Linked DNA regions of Homo sapiens. The protein of the gene in region 1 interacts with the protein of each later gene in a pairwise test. Each region holds a gene or a part of one and is shown in the gene's direction. Other genes may lie near its edges. The genes, in order: TAMM41 and GPI.

Region 1 (11,392 bases):
GAGCAAGACTCTGTCTCAAAAACAAACAAAAAAACAAACAAAAAAAAACTGCTGTTTAACTTTCTCTGGGTTATATTTACATACGTGTGCTATTAATATATGTTCCAAAATTGTGTAAGATTCCTTAAATTCTGATATGTCTTAGTATTTGTCATCAGGAATAATTCTGATTATTATGCTTAATTGCAGTATGCCACAAAAACAATCAAATTTCCTTGACAATTGTGTCTTTAACCATGAATATTGCCTTTCCTAACCACAGACAATTACTGTTTTACTTTGGTTATTCTCAAAAAGTGGTTTATGATCAGCTACAGCCCAAAATCTGCTTCTTTTAAAAAAAATCATAGAAAAGGCTCTGCCACAGACTTTTAAATACAGGTTTCTGATAACTTTAGCTATCATACCATTAGACTAGGAAAGAACTTCTAGGACTCTAACTAAAAGGCTGATGTGTTTATGAAGATAGCTAACTCAACATCAAGCAGAACAAGGTTAATTACATTGAACTAAACTAATAAAAGACTAAACTGATTTTTTCACAGCCTCTTTTTTAAAAAACATTGCCAGTCCTTTTAATGTTTTGTTTTCAGAGTCAAAAAACTTTTTTGTTTCAGCTATTCGTAGCTTATAACAAATGGGTAAAGTATACTTTTGTCAGCAAAATTTAAAACAGATATCTTTCTCTTTACCTGGTTTATTTGGAATTTAGAAACTATTTGTGAGTATTCTTAATTTATGACAATATAGTTATTTACATAAGTTCAGTAAGAATCTGTTTTCTTTTGTAACATGACACAATTAGAGAAACTGGTTATGTTACCAAGGCTTTGACTGGAATGACCTATTTTCAGATATGACCAGACTATGTTGAGGAATTGACATCGACTTTACAGTGCTAATAAAAAGCCCCTTGAAGAGATTGGCCTAGGCTAGGCATGGCAGCTCACCCCCATAATCCCAGCACTTTGAAAGGCCGAAGCCGTAGGATCACTTGAGGCCAGGTGTTCAAGACCAGCCTGGGCAACGTGGCAAGACCTTGTCTCTACCAAAAAAAAATAAATAAAAGCCAGGAGTGGTGGCATACATGTTTAGTCCTACCTACTTGAGAGATTGAGGCAGAGGAATGCTTGAGCCTAGGAGTTCAAGGCTGCAGTGAGCTATGATTACCACTGCACTCAGCCTGTGTTACAGAGGGAGGCCCTGTCTCAAAACAAACAAACAAACAAAAGATTGCCTGGTACCTTGTCTACATAGTTTCTTTACAAGATTCCTGACCTGTGGTAAGTAAAGAATATCACTTCCTAACAGGCCCAGGAAGCTCAAGATATTTTGGGACCCCAAAAAGAGAGGAATTTACCCAGGTGAAAGGTGTCATTGGTAAGTGGCAACTATCTGAGCTGGTGGCGTGGGGGTAAGAAGGCTTTACCAAGACAGTTGTAGGTAAAGAAAGGCAGATTTAGTAGAGAAAGTATGAAAGTACATTGCAAAGGAGCAACAGGCAGAATCAGCAAGAGAGAAGCTGACTGCAAGGAAACAAAGGCTTGCTGGAGATTTTATAGGATGGTTCTTTGCTGTGTACTGAAAAGAGCTTTGTGCAGTATTGATAACGCCAAGGTTACAGCGAGCTGTACAGGTGTCTAGTGATAAGTTGGGCACAGGAGGGCTACGTGTCCTGGACCACAAAGAAAGGCAGACTCATAGCTTATCTGCTTTCTTTCTTTCTTTGCTTTCCCGTGCTCTCACCAGCCTAACTCCTTTTCTCTAATTAGGACTTCACAAAAGGGTTACCCTGGAGGTTTGGAAAGTGTCATTCTAAACGCTTTGTAGGAAGTAAGTCTAGGAAGATTGTACCTAGAGTTTTGTCAGTTCTGGGTCTGAACAAAGACATCCTCAGAGTCCAAAGCGTAGAAATTCTTGGCTTTTTACACCCACAAGTTATAACCGTAATTCATGTGTTGAGAAATTCCCCAATCTCTCTCTTAGGCTATAGGATCCCCTGGTGCCTTCAGGCAAAAGAGGTCCGTGAAAATTAGTCTTGATTGGTTTGGGACACTGAGATGATTCTGGGACAGCAAGGGAGTGCTTGGCACCAGCGCTTCCTAAATTTATGCCACAGAATATGAATCCCAGAAGACACTGAGAGAGAAGGTGGAGGGAGCAGAGGATGGAGGAAAACCTAGTCTGGGAGATTGGAAAATGCTACATGTTCTGCTTCTCTCTTGGAGATTCACAATGCTTATTAATATATTAATGCTCGGAGGAATCCCACATCAAAGATCTCGATTTGCCTCTGTTTAATCCAGAATTTCCCAAACTTAGCTGATAGAATTTTTTATCAAATAACCCTCCTTGGGACAAGCTGCTTTACACCAAACCCAGATCGCAGGGGTTCATGCCAGAGACAGACTTGGTATATGGTAACTAATTCTTTCTCTTCTAACTCAGTTCTTTGCCAATTCAGTTTCTCCCAAAATTCAGGGCCAGTTCTACAGAGAGATAAAGTGGGCAGCTGCTGACCAGCTTGAATTTCAGGGATAGTGGAGAATCAGAAGGGTAAACACATACGTAGTACTCACTACATGTCAGAGATTGATCTAACCAGCTTAGTTGTCATGACAACTCTGGGAGGTAGACGCTCTTATTATCCCCATTTTATACTTGTGGAAACTGAGACACAGAGCCAACTTGCACCAGGTCACACAGATCATCAGTGGCTGAGAATTGAAACCAAGCAGTCTCAATCCAGATTCCACATTCTGCCTCTCAGATGAGATACCTGCTCTGTTCTTTGGAATTCCACCATTATTTATTCATTTCTTTGGTACTGTAAAAGTCCATGGTCTTCCTGAACTCCACTGGAAAACTCAGTGTCCCCCTAGAAGGAGGATTCTAAGACCCAGTATGGAGGCAATTCTTTCTTCTTAGAATTTTTTCACGGTGTACTCTCTGGTGAACTGCTGGTCATCTTCCAAGGTCTAATCCAAATGTCATCCCTCTAAGAAGCTTTCCCAGAAACCCTGAAGAAAAAGTAACCCCTGCTGTCTTACCATTGCGGTGGTATAGATCTGGTTTATACTCTCCATAGTGTATTTTTTTTTGCATGCATGTGAATTTTTTGCCACCAGACTATAACATTTGCAAATGCAGAAATTTTGTTTCAGGCACTGTACTAGGCACTAAAGGACAGAAAGATTAATAAGATATGGTTCCTGACCTCAAAGGGCCCCTAAGCCTTTTATAATTGTACTTGATGGACATATCTGATATTTAAGACAAGAGCTAGAGAGCTAAAAGCAAAGGGTTAGGAAGGCACAGAGAACAGAACACTTTGATAGCTGAGCTGGGACTAAAGGATGAGGAAGGTTTCAATGGGAGAATGAATCAATGAATGAATGGGTCCCTTGGTGAAATGAACACCCCGTGTTATTTTTCTCGTGCAAGAGGAAAGGGATTGGACTTGGAGGCTGTATTAGCAGCTGCCATTAGCCCTGTGACTTCAGGCACATCAATTCTTTTTTCTAAGCTTCAGTTTATCCATCTGTAAAACTGAAATAGTAGCTACTAATTTCCCAGGATTTGTTTTAAGAGCTAAATAAAATCATGTCTGCAAAGTGCTTTGTGTAAAATGCTAAACGCCATAAAGATGTAGGTATAATTATGCTTCTTAATTCCTTTTGTACATTGTCTCTTAAGAATTCAGGAGGATGTCCTCCGTTTATTGAAAGCTTACTCCAGGCACTATTCTATGTACTTTCTAGATACTGTTTCATTTGCTGTCACAACAACCCTGTGAGTGAGGTGTCATTACTCTCCCCAGGCTGCAGATGAGGAAAGGAAAGCACAGAGAGGCTAAGTCTTCTTGTCCAAGGTCACACAGCTATTAAATCCTGGGGCCTGGATTCCAACCCAGGTGGTACCTTCAAGCCCCTGATCAGACACTAAAGATGTATTAAGATGCTCTCAGTTGGCTGGGCATAGTGGCTCACGCCTGTAATTCCAGCACTTTGGGAGGCCTAGGTGGGTGGATTGTTCGAGCTCAAGGGTTCAAGACCAGCCTGGACAACATGGTGAAACCCCATTCTCTACAAAAATACAAAAATTAGCCTGGTGTGGTAGTACATGCCTGTAATCCCAGCTACTCAGGAGGCTGAGGTGGGAGGATCACTCGAGCCTGGGAGGCAGAGGTTACAGTGAGCCGAGATCGTGCCACTGCACTCCAGCCTGGGTGACAGAGTGAAACCCTGTCTCAAAAAAAAAAAAAAAAAAAAAAGAAAAGAAAAGAAAAAAAGAAAAGAAAAGAAAGAAAAGAAAAGAAAAAACGAAAAAATGCTCCCAGTCTGTCCCAGTTCTAACCATCAATCAGCCGAGAATGGACAAATGGGACAGGGTGACCCACCTCTGACAAGATGGAGATCAAGACCCCTCTCCTTCCCCTCCATCAGCAGACCAATTGAACATGTGGCTAATTGTAAGAACCACTGAGCCTGGATTTTTATTCTTCCCCAAACATTTTTCTCTCCTGTACTTAAACACTGATTAGAAAAAAAAAAAAAAAGCATTAAAGCCATAGATGTTTTTTTACAGGGCTTTAAAAAAAATGGATTACATGGATTCGATGAACCTTCTCCTAGTGAAAGCCTGACAAGGTCATTATTAAGGAATACAAAGACAACTGCTAGATAAATCAGAAGAATGAGGCCCAATATTCACTCGAGTCACCAGGCATTTATCTATATTTGTAAGTGGCTCTCTAACATGTTTATTTCATTGGTATAAGCTTTCCAACAGAACCCTAAAGCGATTATATAGAACACTGGGTCTTCCTAATAGCCTCTAATTTCACAAGCCATGGTAATTTAAAAGAGAGTGGGTGGATGAAGGGCCAGGAGCAGGGAGATTTCTGCTGAAGAATACAAATGTGTTCGTGGCTACGTTGCTTCTGCCTCTTTCTGGGGAAAGGCAAAATGCACACAGGAATGTGATGGAACCTTCCAGCTGGTGGTTTTGCATTGCAGGAAGAAAAGTGTTTGTGAACATGAAAATTGCTGATAATTGGGTGTGAACGCCTGTAAGGGAGACAAATGGAGAAACATTGCAGCATCTTTATTTCTATCAAGGGCTGAACTCTGCTGGTGGGTGTGTGAATTGGCACCATCTTTTGGAGGGGAATTTAGCAGCGTGCTGACACTCTGACCCAGCAATTCCCCTTCTAGGAATCTGTCTTATAGCAATACTTGTTCATGCACATAAAATGTACAAGGATGCTCATGATAGCATTGTTTGCAGGTGTGAAAACTAGAAATAACCTACATCCATCAACAATAAAATGTTTAAACAGGCCAGGATGCCTGTAACCCCAGCACTTTGGGAGGCCGAGGCGGGTGGATCACTTGAGGTCAGGAGTTCGAGACCAGCCTGGCCAACATAGTGAAACCCCTGTCTCTACGAAAAATACAAAACTTAGCCAGATGTGGTGGCGGGCACCTGTAATCCCAGCTACTCAGGAGGCTGAGGCAGGAGAATCACTTCAACCCGGATGGTGGAGGTTGCAGGGAGCCTAGATTGTGCCACTGCACTCCAGCCTGGGTGACAGAGCAAGACTCGCTCTCAAAAAAAAAAAAAAAAAAAGAAAGAAACAAAAGAAAAGAAGAAAGAAAGAAAGAGAAAGAAAATGTTTAAACACTTTCTTTTAAACAAAAAATTTTAAACAAAATTATGGCATATCCATATCTTAGAATAATTTGCTACTAATACATGGAATGAGGGAAATCTATATATTCTGACACAGAACATTGTCCCTGATACGCTAAGTGCAAAAAAAGCAAATTGCAAAATAGTATCTATCCTAGGAATCCACTTAAAATTGTTTTTAATGTTAATATATTCATAGAAAAATATTGGAAGGAATATGTGCCAAAGATTACCGTGGCTATTTCTGGGGCATGATGTATGTATTTCATAATGTTTACATTTTTATGAACATGGATTACTTTTGCAAACAGGAAAAATCCAATGACGTTGAATTATTTCCCCAAGGGAAGGAAGGAAATAAAAAAGGAACCGGCTGGTAATGAGATTTATTCACTGTCTTTGGGTGAGAGGCTTCAGTGTAATTCCACGGTGAGTGCACTCTGATTCCGGCACCCTGGGCAAGGGCGATATGTAGTAAAAATGAACGGAAGTGACCATGCCCACACCAGGGGCCGCAGACAAACGGCCTCTCTCCGCTCCCTTGCCCTGGTCTCCTGCTTGTTGCTGCGGCTACTGCTGCTGCTCCTGACTCTTGGCTGATGCCTGAGTGCCTGCTTTCTTCCCATTTCCTTCTCTCACCCTGCAAGCCGCTGTAGAGGACACTTAAACATGGTGGTAAAGACCTTGGCCTTTAGAGGTAGGTAGCCCTAGGTTCAAACCCCGACTTCACCACTTTCCTGTGTGACTTTGGAACATTTACTGCTCCTCTTAGGACCTCTGTTTCCTCGTATGAAAAATATCATCATCTTAGAGAACCTGCCTCATAGGATCTCTGGAGTGATGAAAAGAAACAAGTATAAAAAGCCTGGGTGCAGTGGCTCACGCCTGTAATTCCAGCACTTTGGGAGGCTGAGGTGGGCAAATCACTAGAGGTCAGGATTTCGAGACCAGCCTGGCCAACACAGTGAAACCCCATCTCTACTAAAAATACAACAATTAGCCAGGCATGCTTGCTTGAACCCAGGAGGCAGAGGTCACAGTGAGCTGAGATCGTGCCACTGCACTCCAGCCTGGGCAACAGAGCAAGACTCGGTCTCAAAAAAAAAACAAAAACAGAAAAGCCCCAAAGAAGTCTAAAAAGTGCCTGGGCATACTAAGTGCTTAATAATGACACCTATTATTAGTATTATTGTCACCGAGTCCTTTCAATTCTTTCTTGGTTGAATTTTCCCATCTATCTTCTACCTGATAAACTCCTACCCAGCTTCCAGGCCTGGCTCAAAATGCCATCATTGTGAAACCTCTTCTGGTCCCTTTCCCCAACACCCAGAACTGACTGACGTTCCCATTGGAGGGACATTACATTCCGGCACTGTGCTGGGTACCTGGCTGCATTACCCAAATTCTACTCTGATTTGCAGTTCTGTCTCCTCTCCTCTACAGACCCCTAGCTCCTGCAGGGCAGCAGGCAGCTCAGATCTCTTCATCTCAGTGCAGGCCCAGAGTGTGAGTGCAAGTAATCATTTTTCCAATTGATTTAATCCCATCCCTGCTCCTAAGACCTTGGCCTAGCCGTTTCCAGTTCATGGGGGAACTATGATAACAACTGTCTAATCAGTCCCCCACAATTCAGGCTAACATGTGAATTACATAAGTCCTTGCTCAAAACCCTTCAAGGACAGAGCAGAATTTCCGAAAAAATCCCAGAGTTGGAGCCAGACCTGGGTTTAGCTCTAGTTTTGCCACAGGCTGATGTGATCCTATCACCTGGCTTTACCTCTCTAAGCCTTAGCTTGGCCATCAGTAAAACCAAGGCCCTCCTGCCACAGGGCACTAGAGGGTGCTCAGTGAGAAGTGCATGTGAAAATGTGTCAACATTACCTGAATGTTAGCTATTACTATTTCTATTATTTTTGAGAGGTAGTGTATTTTGGGGAGGAAGGAGAGGGTAGTTGAAAAAGTTTCTGTCCTGGAAGTCAAACCACCTCCTGAATGGTAATCTTCAGCAAGTTTCTCCAGTTATACAAAGAGGAGAGCTGTAAGATTTTTCTACTCCTAGGGTCCTGTTTCCTCCAGAAACTGCATTTGAAGCACCCTTTGTGAGACCATTCCACAAGGCAAGGGGGCAAAAACTGTGATCCACCCTTGAAATTAAATGCAAGTATCAGAGAACGTCTGTGCACTCCCATATCCACCCTTGTATTTGAAAAGGGCTTTAGCGTGAAGAAGTCTCCGTCAAATCTTGACGGTGGTATTCTCTACATGGCGGGATTGGGCATCATTTTAATTTTGTGTTTTTCCAAATCTTCGAAATCTGCAATTTTGGAACTAGAGCGATGATGGGGGCACAATATTGTGAAGGCACTACATGCTACTACACTGTCCATTTCAGAACGGCTAGTTCCATATTATGTGAGTGTCGCCTCACTTAAAAACCTTCAATACGCTCCCGATTTTATAGTCATTCTTTAAACCGTAGTTTGAAGAGAGAAGTACAGAGGCTATCAAGGCTCAGGGCCCGCGGAGTCGGGTGACGCTCGCCTCCGCCGATTTGTCCAAGTCGCAACCTAGCCGCCAGCCTGTAGGGCACTCCTCCGACCACGAGGGGACAATGCAAAGCCTCGCGTTCCCCACACTAAGGCGAGCACCGCCTCTTGCGTCTTGGAAGCGCCTGTGCGTGCGTGGGGCGTAGCAAGGGACGGAAGCTCTGCCTGTGCGACCGCCGCCCACCCGAGCCTATCTGGGCTGCGTCTTCTCGCCGCTGCTCTTCGTGGCCCAACGCCCCAATCCTTGCGTGTGCTTGCAGTCCCACCCCACACTCAGCCTTGTGTCCCTCGATCCAGTCTCCGACTTCCATTTCCCACCCTAAACCGCCTACCCGGTGTCTGTTCCCCGCCCGGTTGTCCTCGCCCTGCTGCGCTGAGTGTCCCCTGTTAGCCTCGACCCCATGGCGCTGCAGACGCTGCAGAGCTCGTGGGTGACCTTCCGCAAGATCCTGTCTCACTTCCCCGAGGAGCTGAGTCTGGCTTTCGTCTACGGCTCCGGGGTGTACCGCCAGGCAGGGCCGAGTTCAGACCAGAAGGTGAGCCCGGGCAGCCCCACGACGGGGAACTGTCTGTTCTCACGAGTCCCGTTTTGCCCTCGATTCCTTCAGAGTCGGAGAGCTGCCTGTCCGCTCTGCACACTCCACGTGTCCACTAGCAGAGTGAACCATAGGCCTGCCTTCCTAGTATAACGACAGCGCGAGTTGAAGCGACGGTGTTGAAGGATACTTAGGAATCCACGTGGGTCTAGAGCAGGAGAAGCAGTTAGGCAGAAGGAAAAACTGCTGCAGGGGCAAATGGAAGAAAGGAAAAGAAATCGTTATCAGGTTCTTTCAGTGTTTTAGTCGGCTGGACATCGGAATTTTCTGGGGAGCTTTTAAGAAAATCCTAATGCTCGGCTTCCGCCGATGGAGATTCTGATTTAATTGGTTTGGGATGAGGCCTGGGCTTCAGGAATTTAAGAAACGTCCCAGGTGATTCTAATGCGCAGCCAAGTTTGTTGAGAGTCACCTCTATAAATGTAGGAGAAAATGCAAAATGATCTTCTGACTTCAGGAAGTTGGCGGACTGGTTGTAGGGCCAGGGCAGGTGCAGTGAAAGTAACTAACATCAAAAGTTAGTGCGTGACCAGTGTATTTACCCTCGCTCAGCACTTTTAACAACGGTCTGTTTGAGACTAGGCATTGTTACTTTTCAGAGTTGGCTCAGCACAGCCTCAGTAAGGGTACAGTTTTCCTTGTAATTTGCAGAATTCAGTGTGCAGGTTTTAATGGGGCCCCCTGCGTCTGGATACCTGACTGTAGTCTGTCTTCTGATTAACATCCTGCCTGTTCACTTCCTGGTGAGGCCATCTATGCTGTTGCTTGGATTTCCTCTGTTTCCCACTTACACTACTATTTAATATTTTTCTTTAAATTGGCAGCATATGAGAAATTATAGGTTATTATAGGCTAGTTATTTTTCCCGAATTTACCTTAACATAATTACACATTTTTAAAAAACATGTTTATTCCATACCTGCCTCGCCACCAAATCTCAAGTGTCCCCAGTGGTCTGTAGAGTCACACTCTACAGAGCAGGCGTTAGCCTCCTGATGGCCACCTCTTCATTCTTCCATGGAGGTTTTCCTTTGAATAGACCTGGAATTCCCTGCAAGAAAAGGTCCTTCCTTCCCATTCCCTCACTTTTGATTCCTTACATTCAAGTGAACAAGTTGTAGATTCCAACACCTACATCTTTCTCACATCAGTCCCCATCCTTAGCGCCTTAGCTAATATAATTTCATTTCTCCCCTGGAATCTTGCCATGGCTTCAGATCTAATTCCCCCACCCCCTTAGTCCCTCTTCTCTCCAGTCAGCTCTTCTGCAGGAAAATTTTCTAGCATGGCAAACAGCCTCCCTCTCTGATCTCATCTCCCACCGCATAAATGTGTTCTATTTCAGTCATATCTGACGGCAGCTTCCAGAACATGCTGGCTCCCATATCCACAGAGCACTTTCCTCCAACACGGCTCCCTACCCTTCCCTGTGCTTCCCCCAGTGCTTCCAGCAAGTCTGTTTAACTCACGTGTCCTTCAAGACTCAGATTTGTCATCTCTAGGAGAATTTCTCCCTCCTGTGCCCCTGATCTGATCCCTATGCTGAGTGCAGTTAGTACATTTTGCATTCCTCTATCAAGTCAATGTAGTGATAATTTGTTTATTCTCTCCAGTAGACTCTGAGCTCTATACTTCTACCCTAGGGCCTGTCAGAGTTCATTACTTATGTACTCAATAAGTGGTTGGTGAATAGGTAAGAGATAAAATAACTGACTTCCTTTTATATAGTATTTTGTAGAGTTTATCCAGGTGGTGCTAATTTGATCCAGAAGAAAAGCGGAGCACATTTAGCTACATTTGTGAAAGGCAGTGTAGTGCAGTGGTTCAGCACACACAGTTTGGAGCCAGACCTCTTAGGTCTGCCACTCACAAGCTCTGTGTCCTTGGGCAAAGAGCATCCCCTGTGCCTTGGTTTCTTATAAAATTGAGATAATAGCAGTAGCTACCTTGTAGGGTTGTGCTGAGGATAAATGGAGTGACTGCGTATGTTACCCATAAAGTGTTTAAAGAGTGCTGGCACAACAATACATGTTAAAGAAGTGTTTGCTATTATTACATTGATGAAAACAAAGCTCATATTTGTTCCAGAGACTCGCTCACATTTCTGATGACAGCACCAGGCCTTCTGACTATTGATCATAATTGCGTAGTATGTTAGAGCTTTTCCATGCTCTCTTGCTGCCTTTCTAGGAATTAATACTGAAATTATTCTCTTTTCTTCACTCCACAGAATGCTATGCTGGACTTTGTGTTCACAGTAGATGACCCTGTCGCATGGCATTCAAAGAACCTGAAGAAAAATTGGAGTCACTACTCTTTCCTAAAAGTTTTAGGGCCCAAGATTATCACGTCCATCCAGAATAACTATGGCGCTGGAGTTTACTACAATTCATTGATCATGTGTAATGGTAGGGTAAGTGACTGCTGGCCTTTGTCTTAACTTGGCTGGTTATTTACCTGGGTTATTAGAGTGCCAGCTAAATATGTATGTTCTTGTGGTCAGGAAACATTCACACTCCTGCTGGACGTTGTTATAGTCGGGAAATATGTATGTTT
Region 2 (11,275 bases), on another chromosome or scaffold:
GAGCCAACCCCGGTAGCTCCAGAGGCGTGGTCCCCTCGCCTTCGCCGGTCAACATGACTCAGCATCCTCGGTGGGCTCGCCTCCTCCCCCGGAACAGCTGTCTAAAATCCATGGGCGTGGAAACGCCACGCCACGCCCCGCTCCCGACTTCTTCAGCTCAGGCCCCAGAACTGACCACCCCACCAGTCCTCTGCCCCAGTCCCTCTGCCTTCACTCCCATGGCCACCTGTGCTCCAGGGCCTGCCTGACCCCTGTCCAGCGGCCCTGAAGTAAGGTCTGTGATGTCTAAATGCCGATACCTCAGTTTCCCCATCTTTAGAACGGGGCTCTTGTTTGGAACTGTGCCCGCCACAGCCTGCAGTAAGTGCTAGCTTCATCAATACTCAGTGGCAGTCAATTGCTTTTCCAGGGCTGCCTTATGCTTGAAATTAAATCTTTGCTATCCAGAGTTAGGACTGTCCCCGGACTTCCTAACTTGCCTCTGCTGTCAGGTGTACCCTCTGGTCCGCTCCTCTCTCAGGGCCACATCATCTTGCTGGGGGCACGTGAAGGTGTCCGGCTCTGCAGCATGTTCTCTTGGAATTTCTGGGCTAGGTTTCCTTTCGATTCTCCTTGGTCAGTCCCTGGCCTGGGGGCATGACCCCTCCCAGCTTCACTACCCCCCAGGATCCTGGGGATTCTGAGCCCTAAGCTCTGCGATCGGCAGGACTTGGCTCAGCATATGGTAGTGATTGTACTGATGGTGATAGACAACAGAATATAAAATGACCTTATGGCCAGGCACAGTGACGCATACCTGTAATCCCAACAGTTTGGGAGGCTGAGGCAGGAAGATCTCTTGAAGCCAGGAATTTGAGACCAGCCTGGGCAACACAGTGCAACTCAGTCTCTACAAATAATAATAATAAGAAAATTAGCCGGGACGGGGTGGTCATGCCTGTAGTTCTAGCTACTCAGGAGACCGAGGTGAGAGAATCGCTTGAGCCCAGAGTTCAAGGCTGCAGTGAGCTATGGTCATGCCACCGCACTCCAGCCTGGGTGACAGAGCGAGACACTGTTTCAACTAATAAGACATAACTGGGATGATGAGGAGTGGAGAAAGGGATTGCCTGCTCCTCCACTTTCCCTCCACCTTTTTCCTAGGACTGAAGAGGAACTGGCAGGAGCACAGGTCTCAGGAAGGAACCAGGCAGCCTGGGTTGATTCTCTAGTTAAGAGCAGAGTGGCTTGTTTCATATTTCTTTCTTTCTATTTTTTTGGAGACAGGGTGTCACTCTGTGACCCAGGCCGGAGTGCAGTGGCATGATCTTGGCTCGCTGCAACCTCTGCCACCCGGGTTCAAGTGATTCTCCTGCCTCAGCCTCCCCAGTAACTGGGATTACAGGTGTCCGCCACCACGCCTGGCTAATTTTTGTAATTTTAGTAGAGACAGGGTTTCACCATGGTGGCCAGACTGGTCTCAAACTCCTGGCTTCAAGTGATCCACCTGCCTCGGCCTCCCAAAGTGTTGGGATTACAGGTGTGAGTCACTGCACCCGGCCTTGTTTCACATTTCTTTCTTTCCTTTTTTTTTGAGACAGAGTCTCGCTCTGTCGCCCAGGCTGGAGTGCAGTGGCATGATTCAGCTCACTGTAAGCTCTGCCTCCTGGGTTCACTCCATTCTCTTGCCTCAGCCTCTCAAGTAGCTGGGATTACAGGTGCCCGCCACCACGTCCAGCTAATTTTTTTGTATTTTTAGTAGAGACGGGGGTTTCACCATGTTGCTCAGGCTGGTCTCGAACTCCTGAACTCGTGATCCACCCACCTCAGCCTCCAAAAGTACTGGGATTACAGGCGTGAGCCACCGTGCCCGGCCTCATTTCACATTTCTTAACCTCTCTGTTAAATGGGGAGGACAACAGGGTATCCTTCATAGGACTGCCATGAGGGATACATGGAAAGGATTTAGCATGGAGCTGTGCACGTAGTAAACCTGGCTGGAGTAGTGGCCGTGTTGGTAGTTTTGTAGTATGATGATGAATGGCTTTGGATTAGTACTTTCTAATCCAAAATGGCTTTGGATTAGACTTTTCTTCTTACTTTTCTGTGCTTTCTCCCTGTAGCCACTGTGATTTATGGCCCACCAGATAGGAACCTAGTTTCCTGCTAACATAGAAAATCCAGGCTGGGCGCGGTGTTGCATGCCTGTAATCCCAGCACTTTGGGAAGCCGAGGTGGGTGGATTACCTTAGGTCAGGAGTTCGAGACTACCCTGGCCAACATGGTGAAACCCCATCTCTACTAAAAATACAAAAATTAGGCCGGGTGCAGTGGCTCACGCCTGTAATCCCAGCACTTTGGGAGGCTGAGGCAGACGGATCACGAGGTCAGGAGATCGAGACCATCCTGGTCAACACAGTGAAACCCCAACTCTACTAAAAATACAAAAATTAGCTGGACGTAGTGTTGCATGCCTGTAATCTCAGCTACTCGGGAGGCTGAAGCAGGAGAATTGCTTGAACCAGGGAGTCGGAGGTTGCAGTGAGCCGAGATGGTGCCACTGCACTCTGGCCTGGTGATAGAGGGAGACTCCATCTCAAAAAAAAAAAAAAAAAAAAAAAATTAGCCTGGTGAGGTGGCGGGTGCCTGTAACCCCAGCTACTAGGGAGGCTGAGGCAAGAGAATTGCTTGAACCTGGGAGGTGGAGGTTGCAGGGAAGCAGAGGTTGCAGTGAGCCAACATCGTGCCATTGCACTCTAGCCTGGGCAACAAGAGTGAAACTTCATCTCAAAAAAAAAGAAGAAAAAAAGAAAATCCATGTAACTGGAGTTTCAAAGTAAATGTGAAATCTGGAATAGTTGAAGCTTCTGGGAATCACAGAGGCCAAGTTGCAGAGGTGTACATTATGGAAGATTAAAAGGCAGGGGAAACCTTTGAAATGGCAATCATCAGAGGCCTCACCTCCTGCCTCTTTCGCAATACCCAAAGCTGTTTCTAGGGTTCCTGGTGGTCGGGAGAGGACACTGGACAAGACTGTGGCAGTGGAAAGGTGAACACCCGTAACATCTTTGGAAAGACTTGGAGTTGTGAATGACAACTGAACTCCAAACAGACACTAAAGGGAATCGTTGGTTTACATTCTAGCTGCAGGTAGAGGTGGCCTGGCCCCAGGAACCTGGGCACTGTGAGATTCACTCTGACATCTCTGTGGGGATCATTCTCTTCGTTATTTTCCTCAAGACCAGGGGCTAGAGCTCAGGTCTGTCCTTTCTGACAGGCAGCTTAACACCATAAAAAGCAGAGACTTTCTGCTGCTGGCTGCAGGGCCCTGGAAAAGGACCCTGTTTAGCTGGCATAAGTTATGTGCTCATCTCTGATGGATTCAGGCAGGGGTAGAAACACGGGTGGGAGAGGATGGTTTTAGACAAAGAACAACAGCCGTCCATCTGGTCACCAAAATAACCTACTAGAAAAAGGCAGTCTCAGTTTGCAGGTGCAGTGCTGCATGCCTGTAATCCCAGCACTTTGGGAAGCCAAGGCAGGCAGATCACTTGCACCCAAGGATTCGAGACTAGCCTGAGCAACATGATGAAACCTCGTCTGTACAAAAAATAACAAAGCTTGTCTCTACAAGGAAAAAATTAGCTGGGCATGGTGGTGCACACCTGTAGTCCTGGCTACTCAGAAGGGTGAGTTGAAAAGATCGCTTGAGCCTGGGAGGCAGAGGCTGTAGTGAGACAAGATCGTGTCACTGCACTCCAACCTGGGTGTGACAGAGTGAGACCCTGTCTCAAAAAAAAAAAAAGAAGGAGGAGTCAGAGGGAGTCAGTGGTTACTATTGGGCTAGAGTCATCTGAGGAATCACAGGGTAAGTGATAATGGGGCAGTGGCTACTGAGACTCGCCTTCCCATTGGTTGAGGTTTTGTTCTGAAACAGAGGATTTGGGGTGGGAATTCTCTTCTGTGTAGATGAGTAACTGGCTTAGAAAACCCTGATTGGAGTGTTTCTCAGAACCCCCGTAGAGGCCAGGCGCAGTGGCTCATGCCTGTAATCCCAGCACTTTGGGAGGCTGAGGCAGGCGGATAATGAGGTCAAGAGATTGAGACCATCCTGGCCAACATGGTGAAACTCCATCTCTACTAAAAATACAAAAATTAGTTGGGTGTGGTGGCGTGCGCCTGTAGTCCCAGCTACTCAGGAGGCTGAGGCAGGAGAATCGCTTGAACCAGGGAGGTGGAGGTTGCAGTGAGCTGAGATCACGCCACTGCACTCCAGCCTGGTGACAGAGCGAGACTCCATCTCAAACAAACAAACAAACAAAAAAAGAACTCCAGTAGAACAGATACTGTTCAGCACTACCAGGGTTGTGCTAGGTGTGGAAGCTCAGTGAAATCTTAAGAGTTGACAGTTCTTAGAAAAGGGCCATGTGGACAGGGCTGTTCCCTGGAAAGTCCTGTGACCCCTCAGTGACCACTTATTTCTTTTGTTGTCAGCCTTTCCCTATTTTCTTTTCTTTTCTTTTCTTTTTTTTAAGACAAGGTGTTGCTGTGTCACCCAAGCTGGAGTACAGTGGTGGTAATCACGGCAGCCTCTAACTCCTGGACTCAAGTGATCCTCCTGCCTTGGCCTCCCGAGTAGCTGGGACTCTGCAGATATGCACCACCACATGCCCCGCTAATTTATTTTTAGTATTTTAGAAGCAGTGTTTTGCTGTCTTGCCCAGGCTCGGCTTGAACTCCTGGCGTCAAGCTATCCCACCTCCCAAAGTGCTGGGATTATAGGCAGGAGTGCCCAGCCCCAGAGTTCTTACAATGACTTACAAGGTCTTACGTGATCTTGTTGCCTCCCTTTTGCTCTCTGACCTCATCTTTTTTTTTTTTTTTGAGATGGAGTCTCACTCTGCCACCCAGGCTGGAGTACAGTGGCTCACTGCAGTCTTCACCTCCCAGGTTCAAGTGATTATCCTGCCTCAGCCTCCCGAGTTAGCTGGGAATACAGGCACGTGTCACCAGGCCCGGCTAATTTTTGCATTTTTTTTTTCAGTAGAGATGAGGTTTCACCAGGTTGGCCAGTCTGGTCTGGAACTCCTGGCCTCACATGATCCGCCTGCCTCGGCCTCCCAAAGTGATGAGATTACAGGCGTGAGCCACCGCGCCCGGCCTAGTCACTTTTTTCTTAATTGCAACCCCGATTCTCAGCACCCTTTTCATCTTGGTTTTCCTCAATAGCCCTTACCACCAGCAGACACACATCATCTGTTGTACTTGCTTATTTGGCACATATGTATCCACAGCGCCTAGAACACTGCCTGTAACGTGGAAGGTGTTCGATCTATAGAGTTTTGTCGAATGAATGAATGAAGCCGACTAGTGCACAGGGAGTGCAGCGGCGCGATGGTAGCTCTCTGCAGCCTCCAACACCTGGGCTCCAGTGATCCCCGGGCTCTGCCCACCCTCCCCACTGCCACTTCCGGGCAGAGGCCAGCAAAGCGGCGGCGCAAGAGGTAGGGAGAGAGGAGCTGAGGCCCCAGATCAGCGGCCGCGGGCAAGGTCGCTCAGCGGGCACCCGGCCTGGGTATCGGGGCGCGGGTCGGGGGCGGGGCCGGGGCTCAGGGGTGGGGCCGGGCCGGGCCGGGCCGGGCGCCTGCGCCATAAAGGCCGCCGCGCGCCCACGCGCCTCGCTTGCTGCGCGCTGCCGGCGCTCCTTCCTCCTCGGCTCGCGTCTCACTCAGTGTACCTTCTAGTCCCGCCATGGCCGCTCTCACCCGGGACCCCCAGTTCCAGAAGCTGCAGCAATGGTACCGCGAGCACCGCTCCGAGCTGAACCTGCGCCGCCTCTTCGATGCCAACAAGGACCGCTTCAACCACTTCAGGTGCGGGCGGGCCGGAGGCGGGGGCTGCCACGCGCGGCGCCCGGAACCGGGCACGCGGGCCTGGGGTCTGGAGGCGGGGGCAGCGGTGCCCGGGGACCCCAGTCCCCGACCTCCAGGCCACGGACTGGGGCCCAGGCCGAGTCCGCACTTCGTCCTTGGAGTCTCCTTGGAGTGCGTTCCTGGGGGCTTGCAGCCTCGCCGGGAGTCTCGGCCCCGGGTCTGCTTCGTTACGAGGAAAAACGGGCCCCTCCGTGGGGACATTTCCCCTCCTCCTCCCCGTGCAGCTCTGGCCATTTGAGCAGGGGCTCCTTTCGCAGTTGTGAAGAGAGGCCTTGGCTGACGCAGCAAGCGGGAAAGGGCTGTCCCTTTCCATCCGCTCCTGGCCACATGAGCTTGGGAGCGTCTGCAGGGCGGGCAGCCCGGGCGGGGGTGTTTGAGGGAGCTGGGTGGAAGGATGGAGACGTCGGGCGTGATTCCTGCAGAAGACACCTGTGCACGACCGGGAAGTGGGAAGGAGTGTTTGAGCAAATCATGGGCGGGAGTGCGGCCAAGGGAGCTCTGATCACTGATACTGGTGGAGGCGGGGGAGGGGAGCGACTGTGGCTCCGGGCTAGACGTCCCGATGGCCATCCCTGTCATCTGGATGGGTGCCTGAGTAACTTACGGCAGAAAGTGGAAGCCCTGGGAAGGGGTGGTCCCCCACTTCAGTCCGGGCTCCTCATCCAGGGTCTGCCTGCATCTACGGTCTGTGAGGATGGCTTCTTTCTCTGGGCTGCTGTTGCAGATCATCCTGGTGGGCCAGCAGGTGACAGACACCACCACTGTGCTGGGTGGCCGCGGCCCTTGTGGGGCGTGGGTCAGGGAGGATGTTTCTTCTGGGAACAGCTCCTGCTTAGGGCATGGCTCCCCGCTAGGGAGACCAGGGTGTGGTCAGCAGCATCTCCATCTTTCTGCAGCTTGACCCTCAACACCAACCATGGGCATATCCTGGTGGATTACTCCAAGAACCTGGTGACGGAGGACGTGATGCGGATGCTGGTGGACTTGGTAATGTTCTGCTTGGGGAGGCATAACTGGTAACCGACAGAGTGGTGGGTGAGCTGGGCTCCTGGGAGTCCCCAGGACCTTGAGTATCTTGAGTTCTTCCTCTCATTAGACCTCAGTCACCTCCTCTGTGCTGGTGAGGCACCTGTCCCTGGCTTAGGTTCTAAGCAGCATCCCAGGGACCCCAGTGTCTGATGTCTGAGTAGACCCTTCCCAGACAGCAGGGGAGGGAACCAGACAGCAGCCGTCTGTCTGTCTCATTGGGGACAGCACCAAGCCTTGTGTTTGGGGGCTGACACTTGGGGTGGCCAGTGTGGGTGGGACCAGGCCTCAGTATCGTCTCTTCCTAGGCCAAGTCCAGGGGCGTGGAGGCCGCCCGGGAGCGGATGTTCAATGGTGAGAAGATCAACTACACCGAGGTGAGCAGGCCCCACATACCCTCTGGGGCCTCCTTCCTTCCCTTTGGGGTTTATCTGACTGTTAGCCGCATCACCCTGTGTCTTCACCCCTTCTCTTGGGCAATGCTTTTGCTTAATGAGGGGCCTGAAGGCCTTTTTCCTCCTGCTTGTAGCAGGGCTTTGGGGTGTGCCTTCCACAAGATTGGTTTGGTGAGCTCCTTGGAATGGTTCCCAGTGTCTGCCTGGGAGGAGCATATCTCATACCCACAGGGAGAGTTTCTCAAGGCTGACATTTTCTTGGAGAAGTTAACTCTAATATATCCTCAATGCAAGTTTTAGTAGCGACAAGAAGAATCTTAGATCACCAAAGACTTCAGCCTACTCAAGCAGTAGGAGTCAATAGGAAGCAGTGGTGAGGCCAGGCCTGGGGGCCCCTGTTCCTGACTCAGTATGGGAGCCCAGCCTGGAGGTATAATGGACACTGAGCACCCAGACTCTGTCCTCATGATGTCATTATCCTCCTCTTACATGTGAGGAGTCTGAGGTTCAGAGGTCACATCACTTATCTAAGATGTCATAGCTGTAAGAGGCAGAATGGAGATTCACACTCAACCTGTCTTGCATTGTGGGTCTAAGCTGAGAGAGGATGCAATCAAGGAAGGCTTTCTGGAGGAGTGCATTTGCCAATAAAATGTGGCGCAGGAGTGGGGTCTGGCAGGGTGAGGGTGGGGTGGCATGAAGCCCTCCACCTTAGCAAGCCTCTCACTGGGTCGGAATCCCAAGATGATCCTTTTCCTGCCCACCTGGGGTCGTTAGACCTTCCCTCAAGGACTCCTCTGCTGACTTCAGGCCATTTCACTCACGTGGCTGGGCCAGCCGCCTGGCACCCGTCACAGACTTCAAGTCTGGTTTGGTTCCTGGCAGTTGGTAGTTATCGGGCTGCTTGGTGAGGGAAGCTTGAGTTGCATGCCTTGCTGCAAATCCAAGGAGCTGAGGACACTGCCTAAAACGTGCCAGCAAACACCATGGACACACATTGGGAGGATGAGGTTACTTCAGGCTTCATGAGCACTCATCTTCGGAAAGCGTTTATTTATTTATTTATTTTGAGATGGAGTCTTGCTCTGTCGCCCAGGCTGGAGTGCAGTGGTGCGATCTTGGCTCACTGCAACCTCTGTCTAATGGGTTCAGGCGATTCTCTGCCTCAGATTCCTGAGTAGCTGGAACTACAGGTGTGTGCCACCCCCACCTGGCTGATTTTTGTATTTTTAGTAGAGACAGGATGTCACCATGTTGGCCAGGCTGGTCTCGAATTCATGACCTCAAGTTATCCACCTGCCATGGCCTCCCAGAGTTCCGGGATTACAGGCGTGAGCCATGGCGCCCGGCCTCTGAAAGCATTTATTGCTTGTTTCTGACATGTATTGTTGCCATTCTCTGCCTTTGCTCACTGTTCCTCTTTTCTCTCACTGTTCATGCCCTGAGCATCTCTGGCAGGCCTTCGGGGCCTGTCCTAGGCATATATGGGTCCCCTCCTCTCCTCCTGACTGTCTGCAGCACATAAGTCCTTGGGGAGCTCCTACTCCTCTAAGCATACAGTGGGTTCTTGGAACAAGGTTATGGTGCTAACAGAGACCTCAGGGCCTGCCTGTCTAGTGGATAGAGGGCCGAGCTATGGCACCATGCCCAGCTGGGAGCATGGCTGCCTGGGGTTGGGGGGGGCAGTCTTTATATCCTGACCGTAATCCCCAGGGTCGAGCCGTGCTGCACGTGGCTCTGCGGAACCGGTCAAACACACCCATCCTGGTAGACGGCAAGGATGTGATGCCAGAGGTCAACAAGGTTCTGGACAAGATGAAGTCTTTCTGCCAGGTAAGTGGCTACTGGGCCGGACTCACCCTTGGCCGTGTGTGTGAGTTATTTGGGAATCTGGGAGCCCTAAGGGGCAGCTCTTCCCTCTTCTTGTAGGCAGGACTCAGGTTCTCACTGCAGCTTAAGGGAGGGGTTGCCTGTGTGATCGCTGACCCTGGAGTCTCTGCTGAGGCCTGAATTTCTCCTGGCTCTGCTCTGAAGGAATCTGCTGCTGGCAGAAGTGGGGCCAGTTTCTTTCCTGAATTGTAGACACCTATGGACTCATGGTGACAAACCACAGAGGCTTCAAATGAAAAGTGGGGCCCCTGAGAGACAGGACAGTCAGGAAAGGAAGGAGCTTTTTCTTTTTTCTTTTTTTTTTTTTGAGATGGAGTCTCACTCTCTCGCCCAGAGTGGACTGCAGTCGTGCTATCTCAGCTCACTGCAACTTCCGCCTCCTGGATTCAAGCTATTCTCCTACCTCAGCCTCCCGAGTAGCTGGAATTACAATTATGCGCCACCCTGCTCAGCTAATTTTTGTATTTTTAGTAGAGACGGGATTTCACCATGTTGGCCAGGCTGGTCTCAAACCCCTGACCTCAGGTGATCTGCCTGCCTCACCTGGGATTACAGGCATGAGCCACTGCGCCTGGCCGGAAGGAGCTTTTTCTAATCTCTTTTGTCATACGCCCTTATCACCCAGTCTAGAAACAGATAAAACATTGTAAAATTTCCTCAACCCTGGCTGGGCGCGATGGCTCATGCCTGTGATTCCTGAACTTTGAGAGGCCGGGGTGGGTGGATCACTTGAGGTAAGGAGTTCGAGACCAGCCTGGCCATCATGGTGAAACCCCATCTCCACTAAAAATACAAAAATTAGCCAGTTTTGGTGACATACGCCTGCAATCCCAGCTACTTGGGAGACTGAGGCAGGAGAATCGCTTGAACCCGTGCGGCAGAGGTTGCAGTGAGCTGCGATTGCGCCACTGCACTCCAGCCTGGGCGACAGAGGGAGACTCTGTCAAAAAAAAAAAAAAATTTCCTCATCCCCATTCCCAGCTAACCCTCCAGAAGCAGCCTTTGTAAAGTTTCCTGTAGCCAGGCGCAGCAGCTCATACCTCTATTCCCAACTATTCAGGAGGCTGAGGTGGGAGGATGGCTTGAGCCTGGGAAGTTGAGGCTGCAGTGAGCCATGGTGACACCACTGCACTGCAGCCTGGGCGACAGCAAGATCGTGTCTCTAAATAAATTTAAAAAATAGAAAAGTTTTCCTGTGAAGTCTTCCAGAAAGTTCCTGTGCACATACACATCTGTCATCTCCTCTTTGAAACACGTACACATGTGCACATGCACACAGGTTGGTTTTCTCCCTGCTCCTCTGAAGCTTATTTCCACCTGGAAGTATGTAAGCAGTGTCCGTGTGTCAGTGACAGTGCATGTAACATGCCTTCTTTTCCTTGTGTGTAGGGTGGTAGGGGTTGCCTCAGAGACCAGCTAAGTTTCCCCACATCAAGCACTTGCCTCAGTGTCTACCCTAGCGGTGATTCTGCAGGGGTGGGTTGGCAGACATCCTCACGTCTGGAGAACGAGGGTGATGCCGGTGTGCCTGTGTGGGCTGTGCATGCTACGAGGGTGATCGTCCAAACTCTTGTCAGCTGTGATCATTTGCTGCTTGTCCTAGGAGCAGTGGCCTCCATGTGTGGCTGGTCAGAGTCCAGTTACTTTGGCCAAGAGCCACTTTCAGACCTGAAAATGGGCTGGGTGCAGTGGCTCACGCCTGTAATCCCAGCACTCTGGGAGGCTGAGGCAGGTGGATCATGTGAGGTCGGGAGTTTGAGATCAGCCTGATCAACATGGTGAAACGCCGTCTGTACTAAAAATACAAAAAAATTACCTGGGCGGGCATGGTGGCGAGCACCTGTAATATCAGCTACTGGGGAGGCTGAGGCAGGAGAATCTCTTGAACCCGGGAGGCAGAGGTTGCAGTGAGCCAAGATCACGCTACTGCACTCCAGCCTGGGTGACAGAGTGAGGCTCTGTCTCAAAAAAAAAAAACCAACAAAAAAACCAACCCATCTCTGGAAAAAATAAATAAATCAGCTAGGTGTGGTGGTGTATCCCAGCTACTTG

Evidence for each region.
Region 2: the proteins of TAMM41 (region 1) and GPI interact in binary tests that used the Homo sapiens proteins (3 or more experiments, as listed by UniProt).

Annotation. Positions count from the first base shown.
Region 1 is NC_000003.12:11,843,886-11,855,277, reverse strand, and holds the start of TAMM41 (phosphatidate cytidylyltransferase, mitochondrial isoform a precursor), read left to right. Parts: upstream 1-8,392; 5' UTR 8,393-8,641; coding exon 8,642-8,776; intron 8,777-10,181; exon of another isoform or gene 10,182-10,375; coding exon of another isoform or gene 10,376-10,387; intron 10,388-11,066; coding exon 11,067-11,249; intron 11,250-11,392. UniProt on the Homo sapiens protein: Catalyzes the conversion of phosphatidic acid (PA) to CDP-diacylglycerol (CDP-DAG), an essential intermediate in the synthesis of phosphatidylglycerol, cardiolipin and phosphatidylinositol.
Region 2 is NC_000019.10:34,359,537-34,370,811, forward strand, and holds the start of GPI (glucose-6-phosphate isomerase), read left to right. Parts: upstream 1-5,659; 5' UTR 5,660-5,723; coding exon of another isoform or gene 5,724-5,730; coding exon 5,731-5,852; intron 5,853-6,808; coding exon 6,809-6,899; intron 6,900-7,246; coding exon 7,247-7,315; intron 7,316-9,046; coding exon 9,047-9,166; intron 9,167-11,275. UniProt on the Homo sapiens protein: In the cytoplasm, catalyzes the conversion of glucose-6-phosphate to fructose-6-phosphate, the second step in glycolysis, and the reverse reaction during gluconeogenesis.